Linked DNA regions of Homo sapiens. The protein of the gene in region 2 purifies or fractionates together with the protein of the main gene of each other region. This does not show direct contact. Each region holds a gene or a part of one and is shown on either strand. Other genes may lie near its edges. The genes, in order: HPN, FBXO22 and TAOK1.

Region 1 (3,747 bases), on a different chromosome or scaffold from region 2:
AGACCAGCCCGGAGCTGCCAGGGAGGCACCAGAGCCCACTTTGTGTCTGTTTCTCTTTGTACCCAGGCCATCTCTGTCCATTCGGGCATTTTCTGCTTTTCTTCCCTGGCTCATTCACCCATGGGCCCAAGCCCTGGGGCTGTCCTTCCGGCAGCTCCAGGAAAGAGATTGTCCCCAAGGAGCTGGATTCTGTCATCCACCTGCTCGGCTAGGGTGCAATGCCTTCTCCTGAGTAACTGGGAGCCTGGGTTCCCTCTGGACTGCAGCTGATTGGTTTGGGGTCTGAATTGCCAGCTGTGCCGAGACCCGAGGAGGCCAGAGATCTGAACTAATCATTTCAGCCAACACGCTCAGTGCTTCCTGCCCATCCTGGCATTTCAGGCCTCGCCCCACGCTGTTGGACATGCACTGTCACCCTCTCCATTTCACAGATGAGAGAATGGAGGCCCAGGGAGAACACGCCGTCTGCCCAGGGCCACACAGCTAGAAAGTGCTACTGCCCAGGACTGAGCCCGGCTATCCTGGTTGCGGAAGAAGAGAGGGAGTCAGCCCCAGCTAGGGGAAGGCAGAAAGAACAGGACGCCCCTCCATGCGCCCCTCCAGCTGGGTCCCATGTGTGAGAGGTAGAAAGGAAGCCAGGCTAGCTGGGGGCTGCCCAGAGACTCCCAAGGGCCAGCAACTCCATGACGCAGTCTCTCTCTCTCATCCTTATGGTGGTTTCTCTGCCGTCTCTCCCCTCTCCATCCATCCAGGCCCAGTCCAAAGTCCTCCCTCTGCTCTTTTGCCCACAGAGCCAGGAGGTGGAGGAATGTCTGGGATCGGTGGGGGTCCTGGGTCTCTGGGACTCCGAGTTTGCCAACCTCTGTCATGACAGCTCTGCTTGATGGCATGCGTCTTATATGCAGAGCCCCAGACCAGTGCCTGGTGTGTGTCATGCACTCAGCAACCTCACAGAGGGAGGACTGGTATCCATGCTTGACCCAGAGGGAGACCAAAGCCCTAAGAATAATGTCACTTGCACCAGATCACACAGCAAAAAAGATGGCAAGAGCAAATTCAAATGCAAGCCTGTGTGTTTCACTCCAAATCTGTGTCCTTAACCATGACAGCTACAGCTTCCCCGCCTCAGCCCCAGCAGAGGACAAGTCCAGAGTTAGCTGAGAAATCACTGGGGGATGAGGGGAAACTGAGGCAGCACGCCAGGAAGGTCACATAGGGTAGAAGGGAGGCTGGTGGTGGCACAGCTGCACAGAAAATGTGGTTAATAGTTAATCAGGTGGAGGAGGACTAACAGGGGTGGGGATGCATCTGGGAGGGGTGCCCAGAGAGAGGGGGCTCCGAAGAGTAGAGGGTAGAGAAAAGAGCACAGAGGGCGGGGCGCCAGGCAGAGCCAAAGCTGGGGCTCAGGGAAGGGGACTCACCCTCCTTCTGCGCCATGTCACTGCCTCTTGTTAATGATTCCCTGGCTGACCTCCTGGGCCAGGGTGGGACCTGTGAGGAGATGGACGGGGAGGCAGGGCCTGGGGGAGCCCAGCCCAGCCCAGTCCTGGCGCCCCCAGTCCCAGGCGTCCATCCAGGCAGGCTGTAGGGACTGGGCCTTGGCCAGAGCACGCCGTGATCACGGACGCAGATTGGGCTGGGTTCAAGGATGGGGTCAGTGTCTGACCAGCAGCGGGGGGACGCCTGGATTTGCAGGGATGGGGACCCCCATGCCTGAGCCTGGTGGAGCAGGGGACTGAGGATCCCGGTTTGAGGGAGGAGACAGCTGAGGACCTGAAATCATAAGTCTTGGGAAAGGAGGAATTTGGGGGCCAGGACTCCCTAGTATGAGGGAGGAGGGGCCTGAGGGCTGGAACTCCTGGGTCTGGGGAGGAAAGGACTGGGGTCCAACGGCTGAGTCTGAAGGAAGAGCAGGACAGAACACCTAGGTGCTTGGGGGGACGTCATAGTGCCCCCTCTTCAGGTCCCCAGGAACCCCTCTATTAGGAGGTGGGCATTAGGCTGGGTGGGGGGATGAGGGAACCCCTGTCCTCAGGGCTGGAACTGTGAGTCTGGGGGCCCTTGTCCTTACCCTGGGGTCCAGCAGGTGGGGGCGGAGCCTCGAGGTAGTGCCGGGGTCGGGTCAGTCTCCAGGCCTGGGCAGGAGCATGGTGGCCCCGCAGCAGCGGGCGGCCTGGAGGCAGAGGCGGTGGCGTGGGGCCTGCTAGGCCAGGCTGCCTCACCTGAGGAGGAGGGGGCTGGGCGAGGGGCGGGTGAAGGGGCGGGGAGGGGCCGGACCATTCGATTGGCAGCACTGGAGGCCACCTGGCTGATGGGGCCGGGCTTGTGGGGGCTGGACCAGGCGGGCCCAGCTACGGGGCTTGCCTTGGACCTCCAGGGGGACCCAGGTGTGCCTGTCTGCGGGGATGTGGGAACAGGGACAGGCCTGGCCGGAGGCTGGGGGTTTAGGGAGAAAGTGCAGGCTGAAGGGTGGGGGTCTGACCAGAAGAGATCAGATGGAGGGCCCCAGCTGCCCTAAGCCCACTCCACCCTCACCCAGCGAACCCTTCCCCCCGCCCTTTCTGCGTCCTCCAGCCCCAGGTCCTGGCTGTGCCCGCCACTTGCTGCACCTCTGCCTAATTCCCTGCCCAATTCCTGGGCCCCAACCCCAGCCCCAGCCTCTCCCGCCTGCCCTGCTCATCCTGCCCCGGCCCCTCCCCCGCTGGCTTCCTACAAGTCACGGGGCTGGTTTGCTTTGGCAGCCTCCGCCCGGCCGCGGTGACCTCTGGAGCCAGAAAGTCCTAGCACTAGATAGGGGGGATGGGGGGCTTGGCCGGGAAAACACAGCGCTAAGGGCAGAGGCCCAGGCCAAGTGGCCGGAAGCGTCCGCAGGCAGATAACACACTGTCCCGCCAGCAGCCAGGCGCGGCCCACGTCAGACCCAGGGCCAGGTAAACACCAGACGTGCAGGGTCACCGCCAGACACCTGCCCGTGCTCAACCACACGCCGGACACAGTCGGCCTCGGCTGCTTGCCCCAGATAGGCCACCCGCACAACCGGCCCCACCCGCTTACCCACACGTGCCCGCTGTGCCCAGCCAAACCCACCTCCACCGCACCCATTTCCTCCACTCAGCCCAGGGCCCCTCATTGGGACACGCTGGTTTAGCCTGGCTTCCTCTGCCTTTCCATCCATACCCGTCTCTCCTTCCCTCTCCTTCTCCCCAGCGCCCACCTCTCCAGAGACTCACACTGCTGGGCACACCACACACCCCATGCCACCCCTGCACCCCAGCATCAGCCTCGATTCTCTTCCCTCCACGGCACCCCCTCCCTTCCTGGCTCCGTTCCACTCTCCCTCACCCCTGAGCCCATGGCTCCCCCAACCCCGACACAGATCAGGCACTAAGTGGCTTCACCTGTGGGCCCTCAGGTAGGGTCCCTGGAAAGCGGGCTCGAAGATTCGGGGACGGGAATGGGGGGAAGGTGACGGGGCTCACAATCGAAACTATGCATCAAGTCCAAGAGTCTTTATTTCATGAACAAAACTACTTCTGTAAAGAGACGAGGCTGAATGGGCCCCTTTCTAGGTGGCCACAGTTCAAGGCTGGTGAGAGAGGGCGAGGTTGGGCCGGGGCAGGAGTGCATTACAGGGAGGGGGGACCCCAGGTCCAGCCGGAGGAAGCGGGAGGGGAAATGATGCCGGGGAGGGGGAGTCGGAGTGGGTCCCAGAACCCCCTGCCCCAAACTGCTCCAGCCCATCATCGC
Region 2 (3,747 bases):
GAATTGAAACACGATATTTACATAGTTTCAAATGATCTCTTCACAAAACAATCATTACAGTAGAAGAGTGATTTTAGTGAAGACACTTGGCAAGCATCGCCTTAATTGAGTAATCAAAGGTAATACCACCAATAACAAGACGAATGGAAATCACATGCCACCTAAAGTATGCCGTGAAAAAAGCACAGCATCACTTCTGTGATTATTTCCTGCCAAAGACACAATTGATGGATGTTCTACAAAATAGCCTGTGATTTTCCTAAGTGTCAAGATTGGGAAAAATCAAGCAAAGCTTGAGAAACTGTTCCAGATCAAAGGAGATTAAAGAAACAGGACTTACTCAGAGCAAATTGCAATTGGGAACAGATCTTTTTGCCATGAAGAACCTTACTGGGACAACTGGCAAAATCTGAACCGAGTCTGAGGATAAAATGGTAGAAATGTATCAGTGATAATTTCCTGATTGTGACGGCTGCACCGTAGTTATGTCTGTCTGTAAGCCGTACTAAAGTAAACAGAGTGACAGAGCAGCAGGTTGGCACTTTACTGTCAAATGGTTCCCTTCCACTCCCCAGAGATGGTACACCCTGCAGCCCCTCTGACTCCACAGTTCGAGTCTTCATCTCTCCTGGTGTTGGCTCCCCTTTTGAAGTTGGGGGCCAGAGAAGCAAAAGAGTACAGGATCAGAAGTTGAAATATTTGGCTTTAAGTTTTGGTTCTTGGCTTTCTAGGTGTGCTCACTGAGCAAGACACACCCAGTTGTCTTCCCGGTAAAACAGACAACAAAAAGTTGCTTCAAGGGAAGCAGGTGAAGGGAAGGTTCTGCACAGCGTTGTTGTTAATAGTGAAAATGTGGATACTTAAAAGGCCCAACATGCCGGGCGCGGTGGCTCACGCCTGTAATCCCAGCACTTTGGGAGGCCGAGGCGGGCGGATCACGAGGTCAGGAGATCGAGACCATTCTGGCTAACACGGTGAAACCCCATCTCTACTAAAAATACAAAAAATTAGCTGGGCATGGTGGCGGGCGCCTGTAGTCCCAGCTACTCGGGAGGCTGAGGCAGGAGAATGGCGTGAACCCGGGAGGCGGAGCTTGCGGTGAGCCGAGATCGCGCCACTGCACTCCAGCCTGGGCCACAGAGCGAGACTACGTCTCAAAAAAAAAAAAAAAGGCCCAACATTTGATGAACGGTCAAATAAATCATGACACATCCTTACCGTGTAGTCACTAAAACTGATGTTTACAAAATCTTTTCACGGAACGAGATGTTCCTTTAATTAACAAAACTGGGATTTAAAAAAAAATAGTTCTCAAAGACTGAACCACCAACCTGCAAATGACTGTGCATGACACCCCTTGCTACTTGCCTCAAGCTCCTCTGCTACCACGCGAACCAAGCAATGCCCCTCCAGGTGGCCGGCCTCCGCCAGGCCTGCGGAGATCCAGGTTACGCTCCGATGGGTCCGCAATACTCTGCGCACACACTCCCTCCATAAGCGGCACACGCTGAGGACGCAAACGCACAAAGGATTGCGAACGGACGTTCATTTTCGTCTCTCCCACAGCTCACAAACCCCCACCCGCTGGCGCAGCAGCAGGAGATCCCTGCGGGATCCAAAGTCCCCGGGGTAGGTAGGTGTCAGTCAGGGCGCTAGTTCGGAAGAAGAGCCAGATATGGAGAAAACCTTAAGGGGAACTTCGCCCCTCAGGGAAGTCCCCCCGGGGCACCACGGCTGGGAGATACCTCGCGGGTAGGGGGTCACCTCAGGTAGGGCGAGCGAGCCGGGGACGGCCCTGGTGGGTCCCAAGGGTCTCTCCCCCCACCCCGCCAGCCTGGGACATGCCCACGGCGTGTCCCCAGGCAAGCTTCCCGCCTCCGCCTCCTCTCCTCACCAGGCCACCCGCAGCAACGCCTTGGCGGGCAGGAAGGTGAGCACACGCTCCACCACCTCCGCCAGGTTACTCAACACGAAGGTGCTCCGCGGGTCTACGGAGGAGCCGCGGCACTCGCCGCAGCAGCCTACCGGCTCCATTCCTCACCAGCCCGCCGGAACCAGTCCTACGGCGGCTCGGAGGAACCCGATTACGCCAGCATAGGGTTGCCCGGCCGGCGCGCACTGAGCAGGCGTCCGCGCCACTTCCGGCTGGACGGGGAAGGTGGGCGTGGCAACGCCGGTGCGTTCCCTCGTCTGGAGCCCGTACTCCGAGGTGTACTCCGTTCCGTAATACGCTCGGAACTGTTTTCTTCATTTTTGAGATTGGGTCTAATGCTGTGGCCAGGCGGGAGTGGAGTGGCGCGGCCTCTGCTCACTGCAGCTTCTACCTCCCAGGCTCAAGCGATCCTCCCGCCTCAGCCTCCCTCGTAGCTTTAACTACAAGCTCCCGCCACCACGCCCAGCTAATTTTTGTATTTTTTGTAGAGACGGGTTTCCAGGCTGGTCTGAAACTCCAGGGCTCAAGCGATACTCCCGCCTGGGCCTCCCAAGGTGCTGGAATTACAGACATAAGCCACCGCTCCTGGCAACTTTCTAGGAGGCCTCCTGCAGTGAAAATAAATTCTTCTTCTGTGCCTGTGCCTCTCACTGCCCTGGCACCGCCATATTTCTGAGTTTACATCTTTCTCTAATTCACAAATTCCTTGCAGGGACTAGGTAGTACTTATTGCTCTTCGTAGTCCCAATGCCTGTTTAAATAGCATAAGCTCGATTTATAAACGGACGTTTGCTTTTAAAAAATTGTCTTAGTGTGTGAAAATCACTGCCTTTATTCCTTGTAAACTTAGTTAACTCGTTGTAATCTTCAGGTTTAAAGTTTCGAATGAGTAAAATGGCATAAATAGCACCTGCCATTCTAAGGTAGCTGAGTGAGATGATTGCTGTGAAGCACGCCCCAAGCTGTGCACCAGTTCCCCGCCAGGGACATCAGATTCACCTGGAAACTACTAAGTTTTAGCACATTCCCGGTCCTTATCCCAGACCTCCTGAATCAGACACTGGGGGTGAGGCCCAGCAATCTGTTTTAACACACTTTATGACGATTCTGATGCATGCTCAAACTGAGAACCACCAAGAAATGGAAGCACAGCAGACACAGGTTTGTCCCCACCTAACATCCATTCCTCCCGCCAATTCCTTCCTAAGGGAGCCCTGATTTGATCGCCAGATCTTGGGCAGAAACTTGGTCTAAATTAGCAGTTCTCATTATGGCCTCAGGACCCTTTACACCCTAAAATATTGACACGACCAATAGTTTATGTGTGTTATGACTATCAATATTTACCATATTAAAAATTAAATCAGAACATCTTAATGCTTAACTCTTTTTAAAAAACCGATGTTATACATTAACGAAATATTTTTATGGAAAACAATTATTTCCCAAATCCTCCTTCCCCCACTGGTGGATAGTATGACATTGTCAGTGGCATAAGCCTCCTGAGTAGCTGTGGTTTTTTTCTTTTTTTTGGTAGACCCAGGGTCTATGTTGCCCAGGCTGGTCTCAAACTCCTGGCCTCAAGACATCCCTCTGCCTCCGCCTCCCAAAGCGTTGAGATTACAGGTATGAGCCACCAAGCCCAGCCAGTTTTTTCCCATAGTCTATTTATAGGCGCAGCTGCTTAAGGAAGCCAGATGGCCCAGATGTCACCAGAGCTTCCTGACCCCTTGCGGAATACCAGAGGAAGATAAACAGGCGCCCTCCAGTTACCTTTAGATAATTAACATAATGCTAAAATCCTCTCCCTAAAG
Region 3 (3,647 bases), on a different chromosome or scaffold from region 2:
GTAGAAGAGGGATACCAAATTTTTCTTAAATAAACAAAGTAAGTACTGGAAAAGAAATGTCATTTGTTGTTTTTTTTTTTTTTTTTTGAGACGGAGTTTTGCTCTTGTCTCCCAGGCTGGAGTGCAATGGCGCGATCTCGGCTCATTGCAACCTCTGCCTGGTTCAAGTGATTCTCCTGCCTCAGCCTCCCAAGTAGCTGGGATTACAGGCGCCCACTACCACACCCAGCTAATTTTTGTGTTTTTAGTAAAGACGGGGTTTCACCACTTTGGCCAGGATGGTCTTGAACTCCTGACCTCAAGCAATCCACCCACCTCGGCCTCCCAAAGTGCTGAGATTACAGGCCTGAGCCACCACGCCCGGCCTGAAATGTCATTTCTTAAGACAGGCTTTATATCCAGCAAAGGAAAAAGAAAACCTGTGATAAATTAAAAACTCCCATCAGAGGTGGGCACAGTGGCTCCTGTGTATAATCTCACCACTTTGGGAGAACAAGGCAGAAGGATCACTTAAACTCAGAAGATCAAGACCAACCTGGGCAACATAGTGAGATCTCGTCTGTACTAAAAATAAAAAAAAATTAGCCAGGTGTGGTGGTGCACGCCTGTAGTCCTAGCTGCTGAGGTGGCTGAGGTGAGAGGATCGCTAAGTCCAGAAGATTGAGGCTGTAGTGAACTTTGATCTCACCACTGCACTCCAGCCTGAGTGACAGAGCGAGAATCTATCCCAAAGAAAGAAAAAAACTCCCATTAAGTACTACACAGTAGTCCATTATAGGTGCAAAAAGTTACTAAGCTACCTTGATATTCTAACTATTTCTTTCAAAAATGTATGTCAGACTCCAGATATATAAATCCAATATCACCAGGCGCAGTGGCTCACGCCTGTAATCCCAGCACTTTGGGAGGCCAAGGCGGGCAGATCACGAGGTCAGGAGATCAAGACCATCCTGGCTAACACGGTGAAACCCCGTCTCTAATAAAAATACAAAAATTTAGCCAGGCATAGTGGCGGGCGCCTGTAGTCCCAGCTACTTGGGAGGCTGAGGCAGGAGAATGGCATGAACAGGGCAGGCAGAGGTTGCAGCGAGCCGAGATTGTGCCACTGCACTCCATCCTGGGCAACAGAGCGAGACTCCGTCTCAAAATAAATAAATAAAAATAAATCCAATATCAAATCAAAATTATATAATGCAACTCATCCTTAAATATTAGACTCTCCCCAGCACTTTGGGAGGCTGAGGCAGGTGGAACCACTTGAGCTCAGGAGTTCGATACCAGACCAGGCAACATGGCAAAACCCCATCTCCACAAAAAATACAAAAATTAGCCAGGCAGTGGCATTTGCCTGTAGTCCTAGCTACTTGGAGGGCAAAGGTGGGTGGATCACTTGAGCCTGGGAGGTCAAGGCTGCAGGCAGCCGAGATCGTGCCACTGCACTCCAGTCTGGGTGACAGGAGTGAGACCCTGTCTCAAAAAAAAAAAAAAAAAAATTATCTCAATGTACTCATAAACATTTATATTAGGCAGCTAGTGTGTGATAGCCAACAATTTATTGAGTGTTAGCATGTATCAGGCAGTAAGTTAAGTACTTAGCAAGCATTATCCTATTTAAACAACCCAGTATATACTATCTTCACATTAACGGGTGTGGTGGCTCATGCCCGCCTGTAATCCCAGCACTTTGGGAGGCCAAGGTGGGTGGATCACCTGAGGTCAGGAGTTCAAGACCAGCCTGGCCAACATGGTGAAACCCTGTCTCTACTAAAAAAACAAAAACATTAGCCAGGCATGGTGGCACATGCCTATAATCCCAGCTACCCGGGAGGCTGAGGCAGGAGAATCACTTGAACCTGGGAGGCTGAGGTTGCAGTTAGCCGAGATCACGCCATTGCACTCCAGCCTGGGCAACAAGAGCAAAACTCCATCTCTAAAAAAGAAAAGAAAAGAGAAAAGAAAAGAAAAGAAAAGAAGCCTGGCGCAGTGGTTCACATCTGTAATCCCAACACTTTGGGAGGCCAAGGCAGGCGATCACCTGAGGTCACGAGTTCATGACCAGCCTGACCAACATGGAGAAACCCCGTCTCTACTAAAAATACAAAAAATTAGCTGGGCATGGTGGCGCATACCTGTAATCCCAGCTGTTGGGAGGCTGAGGCAGGAGAATCGCTTGAACCTGGGAGGCAGGGGTTGCAGTGAGCGAGATCATGCCATTGCACTCCAGCCTGGGCAACAAGAGCAAAATTCCGTCTCAAAAAAAAAGAAAAGAAAAGGTGAGGCATAAATAGTTAAATAAAGAAGTTACCACAGGCCTGGTACTGTGGCTCATGCCTGTAATCCCAGCTCTTTGGGATGCTGAGGAGGGAGGACTGCCTGAGCCCCCATGAGTTTGAGACCAGATTGGGCAACATAGAGACCCCGTTTCTCGAAAAAAACTTTAAAATAAGCCAAGTATGGTGGCATAGGCCTGCAGTCTCAGCTACTCACGGCTTCGGCCCTGAAGGTAGAGGCTGCTATGGGCCATGACTGTGCCACTGCACTCCCACCTGGGTGACACAGCAAGACCCCATCTCAAAAAAACAAAAACTGAAAAAGTTACACATTTACACTAGTAAATGGTGACATACATATATATATATACACATATATATACATGTATATACATATATACATACATGAATATACATATATACACACGAATATACATGTATACATATATACATACGTGTATATATACGTGTATATATGTATATACATACATGTATATTCATGTATGCATACATGAATATACATGTATACATGTATACATGTATCATACATGAATATACATATATACATGTATACATGTATATATATATATATATTTTTTTGGGGGGGGACGGAATCTCACTCTGTTGCCCAGGCTGGAGTGCAATGGCACGATCTCGGCTCACTGCAACCTCCGCCTGCTGAGTTCAAGCAACTCTCCTGCCTCAACTTCCTGAGTAGCTGAGACTACAGGTGCGCGCCACCATGCCCGGCTAATTTTTTGTATTTTTAGTAGAGACAGGGTTTCACCATGCTGGCCAGGCTGGTCTCGAACTCCTGACCTTGTGTTCTGCCCACCTTGGCCTCCCAAAGTGCTGAGATTACAGGCGTGAGCCACGGCACCCAGCCATTTTTTAACTTTTTTATTATTTTCTTGAGACAGAGTCTCACTCTGTCACCCAGGCTGGAATGCAGTGGCACGATCTTGGCTCACTGCAACCACTGCCTCCCAGGTTCAAATGATTCTCCTGCCTCAGCCTCCCGAGTAGCTGGGACTACAGACAAGTGCCACCACGCCCGGCTAATTTTTGTATTTTTAGTAGAGACGAGGTTTCGCCACGTTGGCCAGGCTCGTCTGCAACTCCTGACCTCAGGTGATCCACCCGCCTCAGCCTCCCAAAGTGCTGGGATTACAGGCGTGAGCCACCATGCCCAGCCCTTTTTTTTTTTTTTTTTTTTTGAGACAGAGTTGTACTCTGTTGCCCAGCTAGAGTGCAGTGGCACAATCTCAGCTCACTGCAACCACTACCTCCCAAGTTCCAGCGATTCTCCTGCCTCAGCCTCCCAAGTAGCTGGGATTACAGGCACACGCCACCACGCCCAGCTAATTTTTTGTATTT

What was found.
Region 1: the proteins of FBXO22 (region 2) and HPN purify together in Homo sapiens (co-immunoprecipitation; one large-scale study listed by IntAct). This does not show direct contact.
Region 3: the proteins of FBXO22 (region 2) and TAOK1 purify together in Homo sapiens (affinity purification with mass spectrometry, with the first as the bait; one study listed by BioGRID). This does not show direct contact.

Annotation. Positions count from the first base shown.
Region 1 is NC_000019.10:35,040,197-35,043,943, reverse strand, and holds the start of HPN (serine protease hepsin precursor), read right to left. Parts: upstream 2,224-3,747; 5' UTR 2,072-2,223; exon of another isoform or gene 1,492-2,071; 5' UTR 1,438-1,491; coding exon 1,422-1,437; intron 1-1,421. UniProt on the Homo sapiens protein: Serine protease that cleaves extracellular substrates, and contributes to the proteolytic processing of growth factors, such as HGF and MST1/HGFL. Plays a role in cell growth and maintenance of cell morphology.
Region 2 is NC_000015.10:75,902,251-75,905,997, reverse strand, and holds the start of FBXO22 (F-box only protein 22), read right to left. Parts: upstream 2,121-3,747; 5' UTR 2,035-2,120; coding exon 1,895-2,034; intron 1,508-1,894; coding exon 1,369-1,507; intron 423-1,368; exon of another isoform or gene 341-422; intron 1-340. UniProt on the Homo sapiens protein: Substrate-recognition component of the SCF (SKP1-CUL1-F-box protein)-type E3 ubiquitin ligase complex that is implicated in the control of various cellular processes such as cell cycle control, transcriptional regulation, DNA damage repair, and apoptosis.
Region 3 is NC_000017.11:29,396,831-29,400,477, reverse strand, and holds part of TAOK1 (serine/threonine-protein kinase TAO1), read right to left. Parts: intron 1-3,647. UniProt on the Homo sapiens protein: Serine/threonine-protein kinase involved in various processes such as p38/MAPK14 stress-activated MAPK cascade, DNA damage response and regulation of cytoskeleton stability. Phosphorylates MAP2K3, MAP2K6 and MARK2.